Homo sapiens: one gene and its partners. The protein of the gene in region 3 purifies or fractionates together with the protein of the main gene of each other region. This does not show direct contact. Each region holds a gene or a part of one and is shown on either strand. Other genes may lie near its edges.

The links. Proteins that work in one complex are often made in the same cells at the same time.
Region 1: the proteins of MARCHF5 (region 3) and MFN1 purify together in Homo sapiens (affinity purification with western blotting; 4 studies listed by BioGRID, with this or other methods). This does not show direct contact.
Region 2: the proteins of MARCHF5 (region 3) and MIA3 purify together in Homo sapiens (affinity purification with mass spectrometry; 3 studies listed by BioGRID and IntAct, with this or other methods). This does not show direct contact.

Annotation. Positions count from the first base shown.
Region 1 is NC_000003.12:179,343,559-179,350,717, reverse strand, and holds the start of MFN1 (mitofusin-1), read right to left. Parts: upstream 3,010-7,159; 5' UTR 2,908-3,009; intron 1,874-2,907; 5' UTR 1,867-1,873; coding exon 1,755-1,866; intron 1-1,754. UniProt on the Homo sapiens protein: Mitochondrial outer membrane GTPase that mediates mitochondrial clustering and fusion. Membrane clustering requires GTPase activity. It may involve a major rearrangement of the coiled coil domains.
Region 2 is NC_000001.11:222,621,081-222,628,105, reverse strand, and holds part of MIA3 (transport and Golgi organization protein 1 homolog isoform 1 precursor), read right to left. Parts: intron 6,948-7,025; coding exon 6,814-6,947; intron 4,800-6,813; exon of another isoform or gene 4,755-4,799; intron 3,339-4,754; coding exon 3,252-3,338; intron 532-3,251; coding exon 1-531.
Region 3 is NC_000010.11:92,294,147-92,301,171, reverse strand, and holds part of MARCHF5 (E3 ubiquitin-protein ligase MARCHF5), read right to left. Parts: intron 1-7,025. UniProt on the Homo sapiens protein: Mitochondrial E3 ubiquitin-protein ligase that plays a crucial role in the control of mitochondrial morphology by acting as a positive regulator of mitochondrial fission and as an important regulator of immune response.

The sequences.
Region 1 (7,159 bases), on a different chromosome or scaffold from region 3:
TGGTGAATAACGGACAGACTGGTTTAAGTATCATTACATTTATTTTTGCTTTTCATTTTATTTTTGCTCTTGTATGTTTTTCTTGATTTATTTGCTTTGTCTCCTTTTTGCAACATTTTTACTGAGGTTCTAAAACCTGTACAACTGAATTCAGATTCTAAAGCTGTCATTTCACTAGTGCCTAGCATGATGCATGATCTATAACACGTACAATACACATTTAACTTCATTTTCACTTCCTATTATTTTTAGAAAAAAAAATATTTTTAAAAAGTCAACTGTGCCAGCTCAAATTATTTCCTAATTGGAAACAAAGATTCTATACTACTATTTTTTTTTTCTCATTCAGCATTGAATTGTGTCAAGTCTGGTGCTAGGAATACAATGAATCCCAGGCTCCTGCCCTAAAGGAGCTCAAAATATGGTAAGAGAGGGTTGGGAGAGACATGAAAAAAAAAGTTTGATTCCCAATCTACCAAAGGTTTCCCCACTGTCGCTGGAAAAATTTACAGAATCCCTCCCTTTCCATTGTATAGTTGAGAGGTGCATAATCTTTTTTTTTTTTTGAAATGGAGTCTCACTCTGTCACCCAGGCTGGAGTGCAGTGGGCGACTTCGGTTCACTGCAACCTCTGCCTCCCAGGTTCAAGCGATTCTCCCTCCTCGAGCCTCCTGAGTAGCTAGGATTACAGGCGTCTGCCACCAGGCCCAGCTAATTTTTGTATTTTTAGTACAGACAGGGTTTCACCATGTTGATCAGGCTGGTCTTGAACTCCTAACCTCAGGTAATCTGCCGATCTTGGACTCCCAAAGTGCTGGGATTACAGGTGTGAGTCAGGGCGCCTGGCCGAGAGGTACATAATCTTAAGAACCAGAAAAAATTTCAACAGTTATCTCCAAAGAAGGATTCCTGGCCGGGTGTGGTGGCTCACACCTGTAATCCCAGCACTTTGGGAGGCCAAGAGAGGTGATCATGGGGTCAGGAGTTCGAGACCAGCCTGGCCAATATGGTGAAACCCTGTCTCTACTAAAAACACAAAAATTAGTCAGGCATGGTGGCACGTGCACTGTAGTCCCATTTACTTGGGAGGCTGAGGCAGAAGAATCGCTTGAACCCAGGAAGTGGAGGCTGCAGTGAGCCAAGAACATGCCACTGCACTCCAGCCTGGGCAACAAGACAAGACTCTGTCTCAAAAAAAAAAAAAAGAAGTATTCCCTAGTAAGACATGACATTCCTCATCACCTTTAACAGTTATGAAACTCCTTTTTCCCCCTTTCCACTGCAATTCAGCCTCATTTGAGAGAATGAGATATGTCTGAGGTCTTGGCTTAACTGCTAAATTGGGGAGGAGACAAGTATAATGGTTAAATGTGGACTGCCTGATTTTTTGTCTGGGCACTTATTAGCTGTGTGATCTTGGGCAAACTGTTTAACTTTTCTTTGACTTCGTCTCTTCATCTTTAAAATGACAGATGGTGGTGATGAAAATTAAATGAACTATTAACATAGCTATTTCTCATCACCTAGTGGTGATGAAAATTAAATGAGCTATTAATATACTAAAGTTCTTAGTTGTTATTAATACCATTTAATTTTCCCCTTCTGGAGGTTAGAAAGGGGTTTTATTCATTATGGTACTTCTCATAGTATACAGTATAATGCCCTATACATGTGTTCAATAACTAACGTTGAAAGAATAAGCACTTTTATATATTTTCAACAGTAATTACTTTAAAAACTTAAGAAGAACTAACCTTCAACAAAATGTGATCCTTCAGTAACAAACTCCAGTAACTGGTCAAAGATTGCAGTAATCGCCTTCTTAGCCAGCACAAAGTGCTTCAGTGGAGAAACAGGTTCTGCCATTATGCTACTAGAGGGAGATAAAGTTAGAAAAGCACCAACTAAAGTGGATGATAGACATGCAAACTGATGACACACCAGTGACATTCATCAACTCCCCAATGAAATAAATTATGCTGGCAAAATGTTTTTAGGTAATTCTTTTTTGGGAGTGTTCTAGTCAGACAGTTAGAGACGACTTTTGAATGATATTTCACTAAAATAAGTGAAATCTATTAGCCAAAATCTTGGTTGCAATTTCTACTCAATTTCCCTTTGGTGAAGACGAAACTAATTGTGACTAAGTTTGTCACTGCATGTGACTCTAAAGTACATCAGGGAACAGGGTTAGTGAGGCGAAGCCAAATTCACACACAATAAGGAAGTTACTAAGTTTCTCAACCTGAAGCTCTAGGTGAGTAGGAGTGGATATGCAGAGTGAGGAAATAAAATTCTAAGATCACAATGTGAGGCTGACATTTAGAAAGGTAAGGCTTCAAGAGGGCATTAACGCTTCCAGCCAAAGTACCAGAAACTTCAAGGACTATAAGTTTAAGAAAGCATAGGTGGTTTCTCAAGAAAAAGACACCAAAGACAAACAATCACGGTCTAATCCTGGTGTGTACATGGAAAGGAACAGTGGCCATAAAGAAGGCGGATTCTTCCAGAGAGTCAAGAAATGACCGCGCGAAGGAGCTGCGTGGGAAAAGCCGGGTGGGGGTAACGCCCCGGTCCGGCCGGTGTGAACACCTGCCTTAGAAAAGGCCTCCCACCTTCCCACACCGGGCGCAGGAGTCAGGGCCAGAGCCCACCCCCGCCCCGCGCACGACCGTCTAGGTCCGGATCCCCCAATCCCACCCCCGAGCACGGCCTCGTGGGCTCCGTGGGCTCGACTCGGCCGCCAGCCCCGTTCGCCCGACAGCTGGCTCTCTCCTTTCCCACAGGACCGCGGCGGGCGGCGCCTCGTCACACAACGCTGCATGCACGACTCCCGCCCCCGGTCCCCAGTCGCTCGAAGGTCACTCCGAGCGTCGCAAACGTGCTGTCGAGGCAGCCGGCACTCACAGTCTCCGCTCCAACTATCACCCGGCAACAGCAACTCGGCCACAGATGCCAAACTGCCTCATCTTCCCGAGAAGTTAAAGGCGGAGAGGAGGCAGGGGGAGTGGCAAAGGGCGGTCACTTCCGGCCTCTTGCCTCCTCTGTTCTGTTTGGCTCCGTGGCCGGAAGCGCATCTATGCCAGGCGCCATTTTCCTTAAGGGCAGAAGGCAAGGTTTGTTGTGGGCAGAGACTGCTACCAGGAGAGTGGTTTTCCGTTCCCCCTTCCAACTTCTTCCCCTCCCTTCTCCCCTCAAAGTGTCCAAGTATCTGCCCAGCCTAGGCTTAGCTAGCTTCCAATGATGGTGGTGGCTGACGCCTATAATCCCAGCACTTTGGGAGACCGAAGGGGTGGGATATCTCTTAAGCCCAGGAGTTCGAGACTAGGCTGGGCAACATAGGGAGGCGCCCCCCCCCCCGCCCCCGACCCTCTTCCTCCTCCCCGTCTCTACAAAATTAAAAAATGAAAAATTAAAAAAATTTTAAAAACTTAGCGAGGCGTGGTGGCACACACCTGTGGTCCCAGCTACTTCGGAGACTGAGGCGGGGGGATTGTTTGGGCCCGGGGCTGCAGCGAACTGTGATTTATCGTGCCACTGCACTCCAGCCTGGGCAAGAGAGCGAGACATTTTTTCAAATAAATAAATAAATAAATAAAAGAAAAGAAATCCAGATCGTATTACTTTCCGAACTTAAAAAGCTTTCCAGGCCGGGCGGGGTGGCTCACGCCTGTAATCCCAGCACTTTGGGAGGCCGAGGCGGGCGGATCACAAGGTCAGGAGATCGGGAGCATCCTGGCTAACACGGTGAACGCCCGTCTCTACTAAAAATACAAGAAGTAGCCGGGCGTGGTGGTGGCGGGCGCCTGTAGTTCCAGCTACTCAGGAGCCTGAGGCAGAGAATTGCTTGAACCCGGGAGGCGGAGGTTACAGTGAGCCGAGATCGCGCCACTGCACTCCAGCCTGGGCGACAGAGCCAGACTCCATCTCAAAAAAAAAAAAAAAAAAAAAAAAAAAAAAAAAAAAGCTTTCCAACAGCTTGCCATTATACTTAAAATTAAAGCTTCGGATGGTAACCGCCCAAGGAAAGCCTTCACCTTGCCCGCTGACTAGCCAGAACTGATACAAGACAGGGGGATTGCAAATAAAGACTTAGTCACGCAAAGCCGGCTGTATGGGAGACTGGAGTTTTATTATTACTGAAATCAGTCTCCCCGAGCAGCACTGGGGAGCAGAATTTTTAAGGACAATTTGGTGGGTTGGGGGAGGCCACTGAGCCAGGAGTGCTGATTGGTCAGGGATGAAATCGCAGGGAGTGGAAGCTGTCTTTCTGCACGAGTCAGTTCCTGGGTTGGGGGACACTAGGTCAGATGAGCCAGTTTATCGGTCTGGGTCGTGCCAGCTAATCCATCAGTTCTGAGCATAGGTAGTCTCAAAGGGAACATTTACTCTGTTTGAATTTTAAAAATCATGATGGTATCCTTTTATTAGTTCTGTACTTAATAATTATATTTAATATAATTACTGCATTTTAAAGCAAGAGTGACATATTACAGGCTATAAATTATAGCACGGTAATTAAATGTTTAATATAGTAAGTAATAAGAAATTTAATCCATTGCTTTTGTGTGTGTGTGGAACACACATATTACCAAAAAGCCAGGAGAGTAAACACAAAGAAGGAAAAGAATTAAAATATAAACGCTAAAACCAACATAGATATTAACAAAAACTAACGTTATTTGAAAGAAATTATCAATTTGATGTATCACTGCCAAATCTGTTCAAGAACATAAAAAATGAAAGGACACAAATTAAGGGGAGAATAACTATAGATATATATATAAATGCCAACAAATTGAAAAGCTTAGATGAAGTATAAAATCTGGGAAAACATCAAATACCAAAATTAGACCGAGAAAAAATAGAAAACTCGAATAGGCTAAGTTTCCCACATATTCAAAACTAGCCAGGTCTAGATGATTTTCGGGGTAACTTTCTATTACATGTTTAACGAAAAGATTAATCTTGCCGGGTGCGATGGCTCACGCCTGTAATCCCAGCAGTTTGGATCATGAGGCGTGTGGATCATGAGGTCAGGAGTTCGAGACCAGCCTGTCCAATATGGTGAAACCTTGTCTCTAATAAAAAACACAAAAATTAGCCAGGCGTGGTGGCAGGTGCCTGTAGTCTCAGCTACTCCAGAGGGAGAGGCAGGAGAATCACTTGAATCCGGGAGGCGGAGGTTTCAGTGAGCCAACATCACGCTACTGCACTCCAGCCTGGGCGAAAGAGCAAGACTCAGTCTCCAGAAAAAAAAAAAAAAAAAATTCACACTTATGGACTACAGAGGCAAACATAGGAAATATTAGCTACCTGAGGCCAACGTTGTATTAGAATTATTTTTTTATCCAAGTAGGGTTTTCCTAGGAATACAGAAATCATCAAACAGAAATCAATATAATCCATAATACTGACAGACCAAAGGAGGAAACCCACATTTATCTCAATACATGCAGAAGAAGTACTTGCTAAAGTTTAATATTTATAATAAGTCCTAACATTTATTTTTTATTTGCTATAAGCAAAGCTCTAATATTTATTATTTTTTAAATTATCAACCATTTCTCTTTATTTCCCTTGTTCTCTGCCTATACTTACCCAACTCTTAATATTTAAAGCATGTTGTTACTATTAAAGTATGTGATACTCTTGGAGGAACAAACGATGGAATGTAATTGTGTAAGACACAGATTTACATGCTAATTATGTCCATGGGGAGTTGGTATATGATAAAATTGGTATTATGAATCACTGGGTAAGATAAATTATTTTATCACATTGGAGAAATTGGTTCAATTTAATTAACAAAAATAAAGTTTGAATCATATCTATATACAAATTCAGATGGGTATAAGACCTGAACATGAAAAGTAAAACCAGGCCGGGCGCGGTGGCTCAAGCCTGTAATCCCAGTACTTTGGGAGGCCGAGGCGGGCGGATCACGAGGTGAGGAGATCGAGACCATCCTGGCTAATCCGGTGAAACCTCGTCTCTACTAAAAATACAAAAAAATTAGTCGGTTGTGGTGGCGGGCGCCTGTAGTCCCAGCTACTCGGGAGGCTGAGGCAGGAGAATGGCGTGAATGCCGGAGGCGGAGCTTGCAGTGAGCCGAGATCTCACCACTGCACTCCAACCGGGGCGACAGAGCAAGACTCCGTCTCAAAAAAAAAAAAAAAAGAAAAGTAAAACCAGAAAATTAGGAAAAAACGTAGGAAAATAATTTGGGGACATTTTAGTTGGAGAGAATTTTGTAAAATTAACAGACAGGAGGTACAATGTAAAGGGAAAATGTGATGAATCTATTACATTAAATTTAAGGATTTCTGTTCAAAAAAGTCATCCATAACAGACACATAGGAAATCTATTTTTTGCAGTATATATTGCCAACAAAAATCAATAGTTAAAAATAAAGAACTTCGGAAAATAGAGCAGAAAACCCAACAGAAAAGCAGACAAAGGATAGGGAGAAGCAGTTCACAAAATGAAAGTTAAAATGACTAATAAGCATATTAGATAGTCTCAACCTTGTTAGTAATCAGATTATGCAAATTTAAACAATAATAATGTACTACTTTATGACCTTAAGATTTACAGGAAATTTAAAAGTTGTATGATATTGTTGATAAGCCTGTGCGGAAACATGATCTTGCTGATGGGAGTATAAACTTTAGTCATTCTGCATATATTTTGGAAGTACTGAATCACAAGTATATAAAAAACTGACAAGAACGTGTATGGTAGGTAGCATTATACAAAAGGCAAATACTTGGATACATGAAAGTCAATTTGATATTTAATTGAATTGTAGTTCAGAAAGGTGACAGTTTCCTGCATTATATGGTAAATCTCTTTGAGGTCAAGAACCATAGTTTATCTTTGTATTCCTGAGCACTTGGCTTGATAGTAGATATTCCATAGCTGTTAGTTAAATAGAAGCATAGTAAAATAGTCTTTTTGTTTTGTTTTGTTTTTTTGAGGAGTCTCGCTCAGTTGCCCAGGCTGGAGTGCAATGGCACGATCTAGGCTCACTGAAACCTCCACCTCCCGGATTCAAGTGATTCTCCTGCCTCAGCCTCCCAAGTAGCTGGGATTACAGGCATCCGCCACCATGCTTGGCTAATTTTTCTATTTGTGTAGAGACAGGGTTTCACCATG
Region 2 (7,025 bases), on a different chromosome or scaffold from region 3:
GAGTCTGGTTGTCTCATCATCAGATACAAGTGCATCAGCTGTTGAGCCAAATTTGGTTTTCAAGTCTAGAGTCATTTCTTTTTTCAAAAGTTTATAGGCATCAATCTTATCCTGTTCATTTGAGACCTGAGAACTATTGCTGGTTTTGTTGTTTTCACTTTCTGGCACTTTTAGTTTATCTTGCAGCATTTCTTCAAAAGATTCAAATGAAGCCTGCTCTCCCTGAGCATGATTTGCTTGGCTGTTTGCATGGGAGTGGTGCTTCTGAGTTGTAAACTGTTCCTGAAGATCCTCAGTGTTTTCTGAGAATACACTATCACTTTCCTCTGAGTTGGCTTCTACTGGTTCAGGTTCAGGTTCCCTTTCCTTAGATAATTCAGGGTTTTTTTCCATATCCTGTAAAGTTTTTTCTACAGCTTTCTCAGAATCTGTAGCTGCAGAATTGTACAGTTCCAAAAACCCTAAAAGTTCTTCTACATTATAATTATGAAAATCATCTCTTCCTCCATCAAAACAAACAAAATCCGTCTCCTGTAAGAAAAAGAAAAACATTAGTCTGTCAATAGCCAAGTGTCACCAGAGCAAAGTCTTATCCACGTTAATGATTGAGATAATCTCGAATTCACGTTTGGCTCTAGAGGAGCTTTTGCGTCAACACTGGGCACTGACTGTTCTTGGGCAGTGGGTGGATAGGAGGCTGGAACCCACTTTCCCATCTGAGTAATACTCCTGGCTTCCCTTCATTCTCTCTTCCCCAGGGGAAGAATGATTCATGTGGCTGGTGAGTTTGCTCAGTCCCAATCCTGTTTTCTGTTTGGGACCTGCTGGAGAGGAAACACATATTCTGTTCCTCCATGCTGTCCGTTTTACAGGGACAGTCCCACCTGGGGAGACCCCTATTGGATAGCTCTGTCTGTGACTGGATAAGTCCATCTTAGTTTAGACCGCAATGTTAGAAAGCCCATTATTTCTGCATACTCCAAACAGCTTTATCAGTAAATAATGGGGTCATTTTGATCTCCTATTTGCCCAACTCCTGGGTCTCTCAATTTTGTTTTGAGCACAGGTGGGGAAAAGTAAGGTGTCATTTATTGGGTTCCCCAACTCCCATCATCTATGCCTGATGTTCTGGGAATTCACCTTATAACCCATCCAGGAGGAGCTGAAAGACCATCAGCTTCTCTACATTGTGCCCTCTATGTCATACTTCTCTGCTCACCCAGTCAGAAACAGGCAGAATCACCTGGCTGTCAGGCTCTCAGTCTACATGGATTTGGGGCTCATATTTTCCTTGGACTGGGAAAGAAATCAGCTTCAGAAGGAACTTACTGAGATACAGGTGCATGAGATATAAAAATGTAAGAGAACAAAGAATGGTGTAAAGGAGGCTCCCCATTTTCATACTGCCACAAGAACAACTTGAAAACAAGATTCAGTAAGGTAGGTACCTAACTCCAAATAAGGATTCTAGCCAGTCACTAAGATCTGCTTTCAGGACTGTCAAGTAAATCTGTATTTTTCCCTTCCTCCACCAGTAAGCAAATTGACATACAAGGAGCCATAAAATGATGGAAAAGTTAAAAAACCAACAAAGATAACTTTCTTCCCCTAACTAAACATTCACAATCTTCTGGTGAGAACTGTCCTGTGTACTGGAGATGAATGACTTCCCTCTTTCCATCATGCACACTTCTGAGCCAATTTTTTTAATATTAAGGGAATCATGCAGTGGGAACTACAATTAGTATACAGGTCAGGTCTCTGTGACCAATGAATTGCTGTCTCACACTCAAATCCCGGGCAGTCTCTTCATCAGGAGTGAAGCCAAACAGGCAATACGATTGACTATATAACCCCTGAGAGCGTCGAGAAATTTTAAGCATAGCAATAGCTCTGTGACTTCACTCTGCCAATCTCTTCTAAGAACTGCCCTAGCCCAGCAGCTTGCACGCTCTGCAGCAACTCCAAAGAGCTACTCAAAGACTTTTGAATGAAAGCAGACATCAATTACTATAAATTCTAAAACTCACAAAACAATCAGATGGGGGGCTGGGCATGGTGTTTTTTATATATATATATGAAAGGCAGCCTGTAATCCTAGCACTTTGGAAGGCCAAGGCAGATGGATCACTTGAGGTCAGGAGTTTGAGACCAGCCTGGCCAACACGGTGAAACCTCGTTCCTACTAAAAACACAAAAAAATTGGCTGGGTGTGGTGGCAGGCGCCTGTAATCCCAGCTACTCCAGAGGCTGAGGCAGGAGAATTGCTTGAACCTGGGAGGCGGAGGCTGCAGTGAGCTGGTATCGCACCACTGCACTCCAGCCTGGGCGGCAGAGAGAGACTCTGTCTCAAAAAAATAATAATCAGATGGAATGCAGATTCTAGAACACAAAATCCTTCTAGTCACGAAGCCATTGTGCACTATAGATAAATGCTCTACAGAATGTGTAGTTAGCGCCTTACAGATATGAGACTGGACCTCACCTGAAACTCTCTGGTTCCCTTTTCCAAATCTATAACTATAATCGCTTAAATCACTACAGAGTCAATAATAAGAAAACCTTTGTAAGTTTGCATTTCTGGCTCAGTATAAAATTAGAGCTTAATTAATTTAACCTGATTTCTATATCCTTAAAATGTCTAACAGCTATCCAATAAGTAGTTTTCAAATTTCTCCTTTTGCTTGTGAAATGAAATTTTTTGCCTTCTAACATTAATAAGTAAATATAAAACTACTGAACTCTTAATTTTTCACATATAAAGCAGCAAAGAAAAGCCTTGTATAAGAGTACACGGCCTTGGCCGGGCGCAGTGGCTCACGCATGTAATCCCAGCACTTTGGGAGGCTGAGGCGGGCGGATCATGAGGTCAGGAGATCGAGACCATCCTAACACAATGAAACCCCATCTCTACTAAAAATACAAAAAATTAGCCAGGCGTGGTGGTGGGCGCCTATAGTCCCAGCTACTTGGGAGGCTGAGGCAGGAGAATGGCGTGAACCCAGGAAGCAGAGCGTGCAGTGAGCCGAGATCACGCCACTCCACTCCAGCCTGGGTGACAGAGCGAGACTCCGACTCAAAAAAAAAAAAGAGTACATAGCCTTATATAAGAACATCTATTTCCATATATTAGATAACTATCAGATTATGATAAAATCTCATTTAAATTCTTTTGAAATTTTTCTTTTTTTCTAGGTAGTCACTTATAAGCCAACTTATAACTGAGAACAAGACAGAAATCCACAACTTACATCTGTTGGAACTTGTAGCTCTTCTTTGGTATATTCATGAACTACCTGGATTAAATCTTTTGGAAAATATCCAAAAGTGCGTCCAACCTACACAAAAGAATGGGCAAAAGGGACACATATCAATCAAATTCTGTATGAGAAATATGAACGATAGAGCTGCAAACCTCAATCTACAGCACATATCAAGCAATCAACTTTTTCTTGTAATGTCATTACTTTTCTCCGCTATTTGAGACCACTTCCAACATCACTAGTGACACTTTGTATGGGTCCCAGAGTGTTATTCAAGGTTTACAGTATTGCACTAAACACAAAAAATACATGAGAACCACAAGAGATCACTTTTTACTCACTGTACAATTTACTGGAGAGATGAACTGCTCACGTGGAAATGATTAGCGTCGCATGGCATTTTAAGTGGATACTCACAATACTTGAGCTCACTAGAATAGCAAGAGGAGGTGGCTACGAACTATTATAGTACAGTAGGTAGCACAATTAATTTATGCAATTATGATTTAATATTTTATCTTTACGTTTGTTTATATTTCTCTCGACTGCAAAAGGTGCCATGTAAGATCTGAGTTTGTGTGTGTACGTTTTGATAAACTGTAACTTTTTATACAGATTTGTGTATGTTTTATGGTAGTAAAGAATAAAATACACTAGGATCTACATATGGTTTACATGTCAATAACATACCTTTTTCTTAATTTTTTCAGTATTTCTAGGCTATGCGGTCTGAGAGTTTTTAACAAATTAATGCAAACCTCCACAAAATTTTACAATATATTTATTGAAAGAAATCTGCATTATAAGTGGACCCACACAGTTCAAACCTGTGTTGCCCAAGGATGAACTGTATTTGCACATATGATGTGCTATACTGCCATTTTCCAAAACGATATTACAGGTAACTGGAGACAAAACAAAATTACAGTGTAATACACACTAATCTGCCCACCAAGCTTTCATTTCATGCAAACCAAAATCTCTACAGAAAATAATTCCATTCATTTTCAGCACTAGTAAAATGTGCCCTCTTGAGAAACACACAGTCTTTTACTAGCTACTGTCTGAAAGGAGAGGTAGATCTCCCAATCATTAAAGGAGGAGGCTGGCATGTAAATCAAATGCACAAAAAGAAAAAAAGGCCATCTTATCACTAATTCATAAAACATCTCCATTCATGAGTGCTCTTGATCTGAAAACTATCTGAAAGCCAGTATTAGTAGTAAAATACTGCCATGGAGATTAGATAAGGGCAATTAAACTCTGTGTTATTGGCAGATCAAGTCTAAAATGCTAAGAAACCAAAAAAGACTGCAGAATGAAAACTAAGAAACAAATGAGAATCATTTTGAAAGCTGAAGACAGAGTTTTTAATTTCCTAAGAATAAGGTTCATCAAATTAGAGGGGAGACTATTTTAAGGGAGAACCTGGAAAAAGGAAACAAATCAGAGGTAGAGGTATATAGGGAAAGGGAAATACAATACATTTACCTTCCTTAATCTTTGTCAGTTGGGACCACAGGTGGCATCTCATTTCTTATGATTTGACCAAAAAAAAAACAAAAAAAAAAACATAGGCTCACATGACAAGAAAAAATCTTTATGTCTAATTTTGCTTTCATACATCATTTCTGCCAAGGTACTGTTGATTTCATTTGGGCGGGGGGTAGGAGGGAAAGTAGAGTATCGCCTTAAGAGAACAAATTCTGCATAAGATAATATCAGGACAAATATAAATAAATGCCACTGCCTCGTCAGGAAATACTGAAAAAGAAGACAGATAAGGCATGAGCCTTTCCATTAAAGAGTCTTTCACTTTACGTGAGCTAAGACAGTACACAAATTAACTGCCATACAAAGCAGTAAAGCAAATGCCACATGAACAGTGCAAACAAAGTGCCACCTAAACAATCATCAGGCAGCAAAGATCCCTTCTGGCTGGGTGCTGAAGGCAGCGTTCCTTAAGAAGGCAGGATGAGAGGTGTGACCCAGAAAGACTGACAGGACATCCAGAGATGAAGACGTGAATGAGCAAAACTGCAGTGGGAGGAAAATGTTAAGTCAAGTTCATTCATCCAAATGCTCAAAGATGAGGAGTGGAAAAAAAAACTTAACTTTTCTATGAAAAAACGCAGCCTAGGTACATGGAAAAACATTTCCAAGAGTAAAGATTATCAACAAATCTCATTAGGTAGACTTGAAGGAAATAGAATAGATTTGTTTTGGTATGGAGCAAGTCACTTGGGATGCTCTCTAAATAGGAGAGCTGAACCTGACCAGTTGTTGTTTCCCAAGATTACTCCCTAGGAACCTGGAATGCCAACAAAATCAGTCTATTTTCCCCAAGGGGATTTCTCAAGCCTTATTTTCTCTTTGTTTGTTTGGTGTTTTACTGACAGTGAAAACTTTCATAGTCGGGATGGGTATTTCTCTAAGTTGGGACAATCCTAAAGATATCGAGGACCCTTACTACTTGAAGTAAAGACACAGTCCACATATCACGCTTTCTAAAAAGGAAAGGACAATAACTCATAAGACAGGCCTCTCAATCAGGTCACTCCCAGTGAATCTCCTCATTAAAAATACCAAAGCATGATGCAGTCATTGATTGCCAGGTCTGATAGCAGGGTACCCATAAAATCAGCTGGGAATCAATCCCCTGGGGTAACCTCCAGACACAAGTGTCTGAAAAGCAGGACAAGGATGACCCCAAGGCTGCAAACAAAAATACAAACAAGAGGCTGGTTGCGGTGGCTCACGCCTGTAATCCCAGCACTTTGGGAGGTCAAGGTGGGTGGATCACAAGGTCAGGAGATCGAGACCTAGCTAACACAGTGAAACCCCGTCTCTACTAAAAAAATACAAAAAATTAGCCGTGTGGTGGCAGGCACCTGCAGCCCCAGCTACTCGGGAGGCTGAGGCAGGAGAATGGCGTGAACCCGGGAGGCGGAGCTTGCAGTGAGCCGAGATCGCGCCACGGCACTCCAGCCTGGGCGACAGAGCAAGACTCCGCCTCAAAAAAAAAAAAACAAACAAACAAGAAAGCACACGAGAAACAACATTTTGCTTTTTTACAGACTTATAATAGCACAGATGATTAGGGAACTGTTCCCAAGACTGCCACTTTTTCATAAATAATAATATAAACAAAGAAATACACATAAAATCAACTTTAAGCTTACATGCCTGAAACACTCTCTCACATATAGTTTACAGGAGTAAGTCTAATTCCTATGAATACTTCCTTTTTAAAGCAATGAAGTATTTTTCAGCTCTTACCATTTCAACCTCTAATACGTATGCAGCATCCTAGAGGTTGACCCTGAGGGGAACTTGCCAGAATCAGTTCTATTTCAGAAGGCTCTGCTGAGCCCCTACTCTGTGCAGACCCAAGGCCTGCTGGGGACACAGGGCCATCTTTTTTCACAGTCAGGCAGAGAGGACAAGTTAACTCCATCAAAGGTCCCAAGAAAATGCAGTCATTTAACTCTACAGTGCTAAAGAAGCCAATAAAAATTAAGCAAATAAAGTATGTCGATATTTTACTTACACTTCCAGCCCAAACTTCAGGCCATCCTCTTGCCAGTTTATAGTAAACATATACAGGATCACCTTTTTTAAAATTCACAAAACGACAATCCGGGCCTGTGAAATCTTCAAGAGCCTCACCGCGGTACATTAACACTGTATATAAAGAGAGAGAAAAAAAATAGCCAGATATCAGGATTCAGTGTTCACAGTGCATATTGATTTATCAGGAAA
Region 3 (7,025 bases):
CTCATGCCTGTAATCCCAGCACTTTGGGAGGCTGAGTGGGGAGGACTGCTTGAGACCAGGAGTTCAAGGCCAGCCTGGCCAAAACAGTGAAACCCTGTTTCTACTAAAAATACAAAAAATTAGCTGAGCATGATGGCACACACCTGTAATCCCAGCTACTTGGGAGGCTGAAGCATGAGAATCGCTTGAACCCGGAGGCTGCAGTGAGCCAAGGTTGCACTACTGCATTCCAGCTTGGGCAACAGAGTGAAGGCTCTGCCTCAAAAAAAAAAAAAAAAAAGAATTAGGAGGCACTGAAGATGAACTGCTACATGAGTCTGGAGAAGAAGAGAAAAATATTTCTGCAGACATGGTCAGAAGAGCATTATAAACAAGGCAGAACCTAACTAGGTCTTGAAAAATGGGTAGAGCTTTGAAAGAAAAGATGCCAAACAAAACCCAAAAACAAAAACCACCTTATGTTTGGAAGAAAGTGCGCAAGCCAGTTTGGCTTGGGCAAAAGACTTGGGTACTTATACACTTATTCATAAAGAGAAGAAAGGCTTTAAAAAGGCAGTTGGTGCCAGCTATGTACGGCATATCTTAAACATAATAGGGAGCATAATAAATGGTCTGTGAATAATGGTGAGTGTCCTGAAGGACAGGCTAAAGAATATGATCTCTTTTTTTTTTTTGAGACAGGGTCTTGCTCTGTGGCCCAGGCTGGAGTGCAGTGGCATGGTGCAATCTCAGCTCACTGCAACCTCCATAACCTGGGCTCAGGTGATCCTCCCATCTCAGCCTCCCCAGCAGCTGCAATTACAGGTGTGGGCCACCACACCCAGCTATTTTTTCTTTCTTTCTTTTTTTTTTTAAGTAGACACAGGGTTTCTCCATGTTGCCCACGCTGGTCTCAAACTCTTGGGCTCAAGCAATCTGCTCCTCTCGGCCTCCCAAAGTGCTGGGATTACAGGCATGAGCCACTGAGCCCGGCCAGATCTTTTTTTCTTTTCTTTTCTTTTTTTTTTTTGAGACAAGGTCTTGCTTTGTTATACCCAGGCTGGAGTGCAGTGATGTGATAATGGCTTGCTGCAGCCTCAATCTCCCAGGCTCAAGTGAACCTCCCGCTTCAGCCTCCTGAGTAGCTGGGAGTATAGGCATGCACCACTACACTGGTTACTTTTTTATTTTTTGTAGAGACGGGGGTCTTAGTATTTTGCTCAGGTGGGTCTCAAACTCCTGAGATCAGGCGATCCTCCTGCCTCAGCCTCCCAAAGTGCCCAGCCCTGAACTTAATCTCAATAAGCAGTAAGAAAATACAAGTTTTGAGCAAATGAGGCAATTTAAAAAAATGGTGCTTCTGCATGATTATTCTAAGCACTGATATGTCACAAAGAATGAAAAGAAAGACATCATGATACAAAAGAGGGTCTCCTATGCACTAAGGCCCTTGTGGGAAAATAGGATAGGGAATACAGGCAGTTTCTGTTCTCAGTGAACTTCCAGATGAATATGTGTGTGTGTGGGAAGCTCTGAGACATGGGACAAGTATATTAAAAAATTTACAGTACAATGTGATACACTATAATAAATGCAACAAGGTTCTATTGAAACACAGAAAGGAGTTATTAACTCTGTTTGGGGGAGCTGTGCAAGGTGTCACTGTGGTATTTCAGCTGAATTCAATATGGGTAAGACTTCACCAGGTGTTAGGAGGGAGGAAGGCACCTAAAGCAAAAATAAAGAAATGAAAGAGCAGGATATGTTCAGGGGTCAATGAAGGGGAGTGCAGGAAAGGATGGTTAAGGTAGGTTGGGGCTGGATTATAGTAACAGATCAAAGCACGTTACCCCGTTGAAAGTTTACGTTTTATCCTTTTACGTGACACAGAGACTGGCAGATTTTTAAGTATAGAAATCGCATGATTATAATTGTGCCTTCGCTAATTCTAGTGCCACTCTGTAGGCCAAACTGGACCAAGTGAAAAATTGAAGCTAGAAAAAGGAAAATCAACAATATGTGATGAACAAGTGGATCTGGAAGGAAAGAAGGCAGCAAAAAAATGTAAATAGGCCGGGCAAGGTAGCTCATACCTGTAGTCCTAACACTTTGGGAGGCCAAGGTAGGATTGGTGGAGAACAGGAGTTTGAGACAGCCTGGGCAACATAGTGAGACCCGTCTCTATCCCCCTCCCCACCAAAAAAAAAAAAGTTTAAAAAAAATTAGCTGGGCATGCTGGCTTGCCCTGTGCTCCTAGCTACTTGGGAGGCTTGAGCCTGGGAGTGCAAGACCCTGTTTCTTTAACAAAAACAAAGAAAACAAGAAAAACTTATGTTTTGGCTAGCTTCATGCCTGTAATCCCAGCACTATGGGAGGCTGAGGCAGGAGGGTCACTTAAGCTCAGGAGTTTGAGACCAGCCTGGGCAACACGGCGAAAGCCCGTCTCTACTAAAAATACAAAAATTAGCTGGACATGCAGTCCCAGCTAGTCAGGAGGGTGAGGTGGGAGGATATTTTGAGCCGGAGGGTGGGGGATGGAGGTTGCAGTAAGCCGAGATGGGCCACTGCACTCCAGCCTGGGCGACAGAGCCAGACCCTGTCTCAAAAACAAACAAACAAATAAAATTTATGTTTTATAGCTGGTGGACAAGAAGACTGGTAATATCAAAGACCAAAAATTGAGAAGTCAAGATAAGTAGCTTAGTTTTAGATTGATTGGCAATACTGTATACACACAAATGGAAATGTCCACTGGGCAGGTAGAAATTAGGTGCTAAAGGAAATGAGGAAAAGAGGTCAGGAATAAAGACACAGATCTGGGAGTTGTTTGAATAAACAGGAAAGAGAGTGAGTAAGTGTACTTTCTCAAAATAGTAAATGCTGAGAATTGAACCATACATAGAAATTGAAGGAAGAAAAAGGTAACGTGATTCTGAAGGATAAAAAGTCCTGAAGAAAATGTCATTATATTTACTAAGAAATTATTGGTGACCTTTAGTATACATATACATATATAGAGAGAGAGATCGTGCAGTGGCACGATCTCAGCTCACTGCAACCTTTGCCTCCCAGGTTCAAGCGATTCTTGTGCCTCAGCCTCCCGAGTAGCTGAGATTACAGGTATGTGCCACTATGCCCTACTAATGTTTGTATTTTTTGTAGAGATGGGGATTCGCCATGTTGGCCAGGCTGGTCTTGAACTCCTGAGCTCAAGTGATTGGCCTGCCTCGGTCTTCCAAAGTGCTGGGATTACAGGTGTGAGCCACTGCACCCAGCCCTTCAGTACACTTTCAGTAGAGCTAATGACAAGAAAGGGGAATGAAAGTCAAATTATCAGGAAAAATAATAAAGAGAAAATAAGAATCTAAATGTCATAAACGAGACTGGATTAAAAAAGAAAAAAGGCCAGGTGTGGCGGCTCATGCCTGAAATCCCAGCACTTTGGGAGGCCGAGGCAGGTGGATCACGAGGTCGGGAGTTTGAACCAGTCTGGCCAACACAGTGAAACCCTGTCTCTACTAAAAATACAAAAAATTAGCTGGGTGTGGTGGCACGTGCTTGTAGTCCCAGCCACTTGGGAGGTTGAGGTGGGAGAATCAATTGAACTCAGGAGGTGGAGGTTGCAACAGTGAGCCGAGACCACGCCATTGCACTCCAGCTTGGGTGGCAGGGTGAGACTCTGTCTCAAAAAAAAAAAAAAAAAAAAAAAGTTGAAAGCTGGATGTGGTGGAACACACCTGTAGTCCCCCACTTTGGGAGCTTTGGGAGGCCGAGGCGAGCGGATCACTTGAGCCCAGGAGTTTGAGACCAGCCTGGGCAACGTGGTGAAACTCCATCTCCACAAAAAAAATACAAAAAATCAGCTAGGTGTGGTGGTGCACACCAGTAGTCCCAGCTACTCTGGAAGCTGAGGTGGGAGGATCACTTGAGCCTGGGAGGTTGAGGCTGTAGTGAGCCGTGACTGTGACCCTCCACTCCAGCCTGAGCAATGGAGTAAGACCCTGACTCAAAAAAAAAAAAAAAAAAGTAGTCTATTAATATACTTTTCTATATAAAAGCATTAAACCAAGAAGGATGGAAGAATATAAACCCATTTTATGATAGTGGAGTGGGGATGAGAAGATATGCCATTGGGGATGGTGGTCAAAGGGGATTTAATTTTATCTATGATGTTTCCATTTTTTACATATATCTGGAAATAAATATAATTGATGATGATTTTTAATTCTGGGCATTGGTCTGTAATTGTCAACATGGTGATGTGATTGAGAAAAAGAGGTCAACTGACAAAGAAAATGTGAAATTGTTTATACAGCATGCTCCTATCAGAGTATAGCTTCCTTGGTCTTCAAAGGGGTATACATCTGTGGATAACACTCTCACAGAGGCAGAATTCTAATTCACTATACCATTGTGGGAGGGGGCTGGAAGAATAGACCACTCTCTCTGCTCTTTCTGCCATCTGACCATTCTGGGGACATTCTGGCTACACTCCTTGCCTATTTACTAGATGCAAGTAAGTGATGCAAAACAACCTCAACAAATTAATGCGTGTTTATTTTAAGACGGGGGAAGCAGAAGTAGTTTCCAAAAGCATTTCTCAGTAGGTCCAGGCTTCAAATCAGAGGTCCATTCCTGCAGTTTGTTATAATATTCTTTGCATTGTTCTCTGTAAATTCACTCCTAACTTTGAGAAGTTTTAGAGAAAAATGAGAATGTCGGTGGTCAAAGAGAAAGTAATATATAACAACTTCTTATTAAAGAATTGAAGCAATGAAAGACAGAAGAGCTAACTAAGGTTCAAAAGGCCTGACATAAAGGGTTTGGGCTTATGAATGGTTATCATTTCAGGGAAATGATATTTGTGACACTGAAACATTCACGACACTAGAAAAATCACCCCCCTTTCCACCATTCTTGTTTCCCCACAACAACTTAAAAGGTTCAAATAATAAATTTACATAAAACACTTATAGTTTATAAAAACGAAAGGCAATCCAAAGAATATATATCCATATGGTCAGGAGTGGTGGCTCACCCCTGTAATCCCAGCACTTTGGGAAGCAGAGGTAGGTGGATCACCTGAGGTCAGGAGCTCGAGACCAGCCTGACCAACATAGAGATACCCAGTCTCTACTAAAAATACAAAATTAGCCAGGCGTGGTGGCACATGCCTGTAATCCCAGCTACTCCGGAAGCTAAGGCAGGAGAATCACGCGAACCCGAGAGGCGGAGGTTGTGGTGAACCGAGATCGCGCCACTGCCCTCCAGCAGCCTGGGCAACAAGAGCGAAATTCCATGAAAAAAAAAAAAATTCCATATATATATGTATGTATGTATATATATACGTATGTATATGTATTCTTTCCACCTACAAATATTACAGTAATCAAAGTTACCAATATAAACAAATAATAGCTAAACTAAAGTGAGTTATTTGCAAAGGACAAGGGAATTCAACTTCAGCTATTAAGAAGTTGCCACAGGCCAGGCACGGTGGCTCACGCCTGTAATCCCAGCACTGTGGGAGGTCAATTCCGGCAGATTACGACGTCAGGAGATCGAGACCATCCTGGCTAACACGGTGAAACCCCGTCTCTACTAAAAATACAAAAAAATTAGCTGGCCTTAGTGGCGGGTGCCTGTAGTCCCAGCCACTCGGGAGGCTGAGGCAGGAGAATGGCGTGAACCCAAGAGGCACAGTTTGCAGCGAGCCAAGATTGCGCCACTGCACTCCAGCCTGGGCGACTGAGCGAGACTCTGTCTCAAAAAAAAAAATAAAAAATAAATAAATAAATAAATAAAAGAAGTTGTCACCAGTTGGCCCAAGTGACAGAGTGAGACTTCGCCTCAAAAAAAAAAAAAAAAAAAAAAAAAGAAAAGTTGCCTCTAGTTTAAAAACCCTGAAAGATTAAATGGTATAAATTGAACATACCATTCATATTACAATTAAAATAGTCTTCACTTTGACAGTTTAGACAACACAAACACCCCTGGAATTGAAGCTCCATAAGGGCATTTTTGTTATGTTCAATTCACCACTATATACCAAGGGCCTAGAATAGTACTGGGCATATGAAGACACTCAGTATTTGTTAAATAAATTCAATAAGTGTAAATGTTTAATAATTGATTTACTGAAAAATAACATTTTTTTTTAAGACAGGGTCTTGCTCTGTTACCTGGGCTGTAGTACCCAGGGGCACAAACACAGCTCACTACAGCCACGACCCCCAAGGAATCCTTCCACCTCAGCTTCCTGAATATTTGGGACCACAGGCATGTGCCACCAGGCCTGGCCTAATTTTTAACATTTTTGTAAAGACTGAGTCTTGCCATGTTGCCCACACTGGTGTCTAACTCCTGGGCTCAAGCAATCCTCTCATCTCGGCCTCCCAAAGTGCTGGGATTACAGGCATGAGCTACTGTGCCTGGCCTAAATAAAATACGTAACTTAACCTAAAAGCAACAGAACAATATGTAACACACAGTTCCTTAGTCTTCACGAAGATAAAACCTGCATTAAAGAAATAAACAAATGAACAGTTATCTGAGCTAAATTCTGTCCCTCAAAAATTGCCACCAAAAACCAGGTTGGGGAGAAGCCAAATTCATGAAAAGAATTCTGGGTCCTAATAGGCTGACATATTTTAGTCTCTTGGCCCTGTTGGTATTCCTCAAGTGAACCATGTTGAGTATCTTTGTGTTCAACTTGCAGTAGGGCCAGCCCAGGTGAAGAAAGCTGTAAACATAAAGTAGATGGGGGAAAAATGGCCAAACTGGTTTACATTAGTCTTAAGTGCCTTCTATTTGGCTAACATAGAGTGTTTTGCTGTTTTATAGAGATGTATGTTTCATTTGCTGTAGCCCTGTGAAGTAGGGTTCTCATTTTATAAATGATAATATACATAGTGTCAGAATCTAAGTTCAAAGTCACATAGCTAGTAAGTGGCAAAATTCGAATTTCATACTTTCTATCTCTGAGCCCAAGCTTTACTCACTATACCCTACTATCTCTTATCATGAAAGATATCACTGACTTAGGA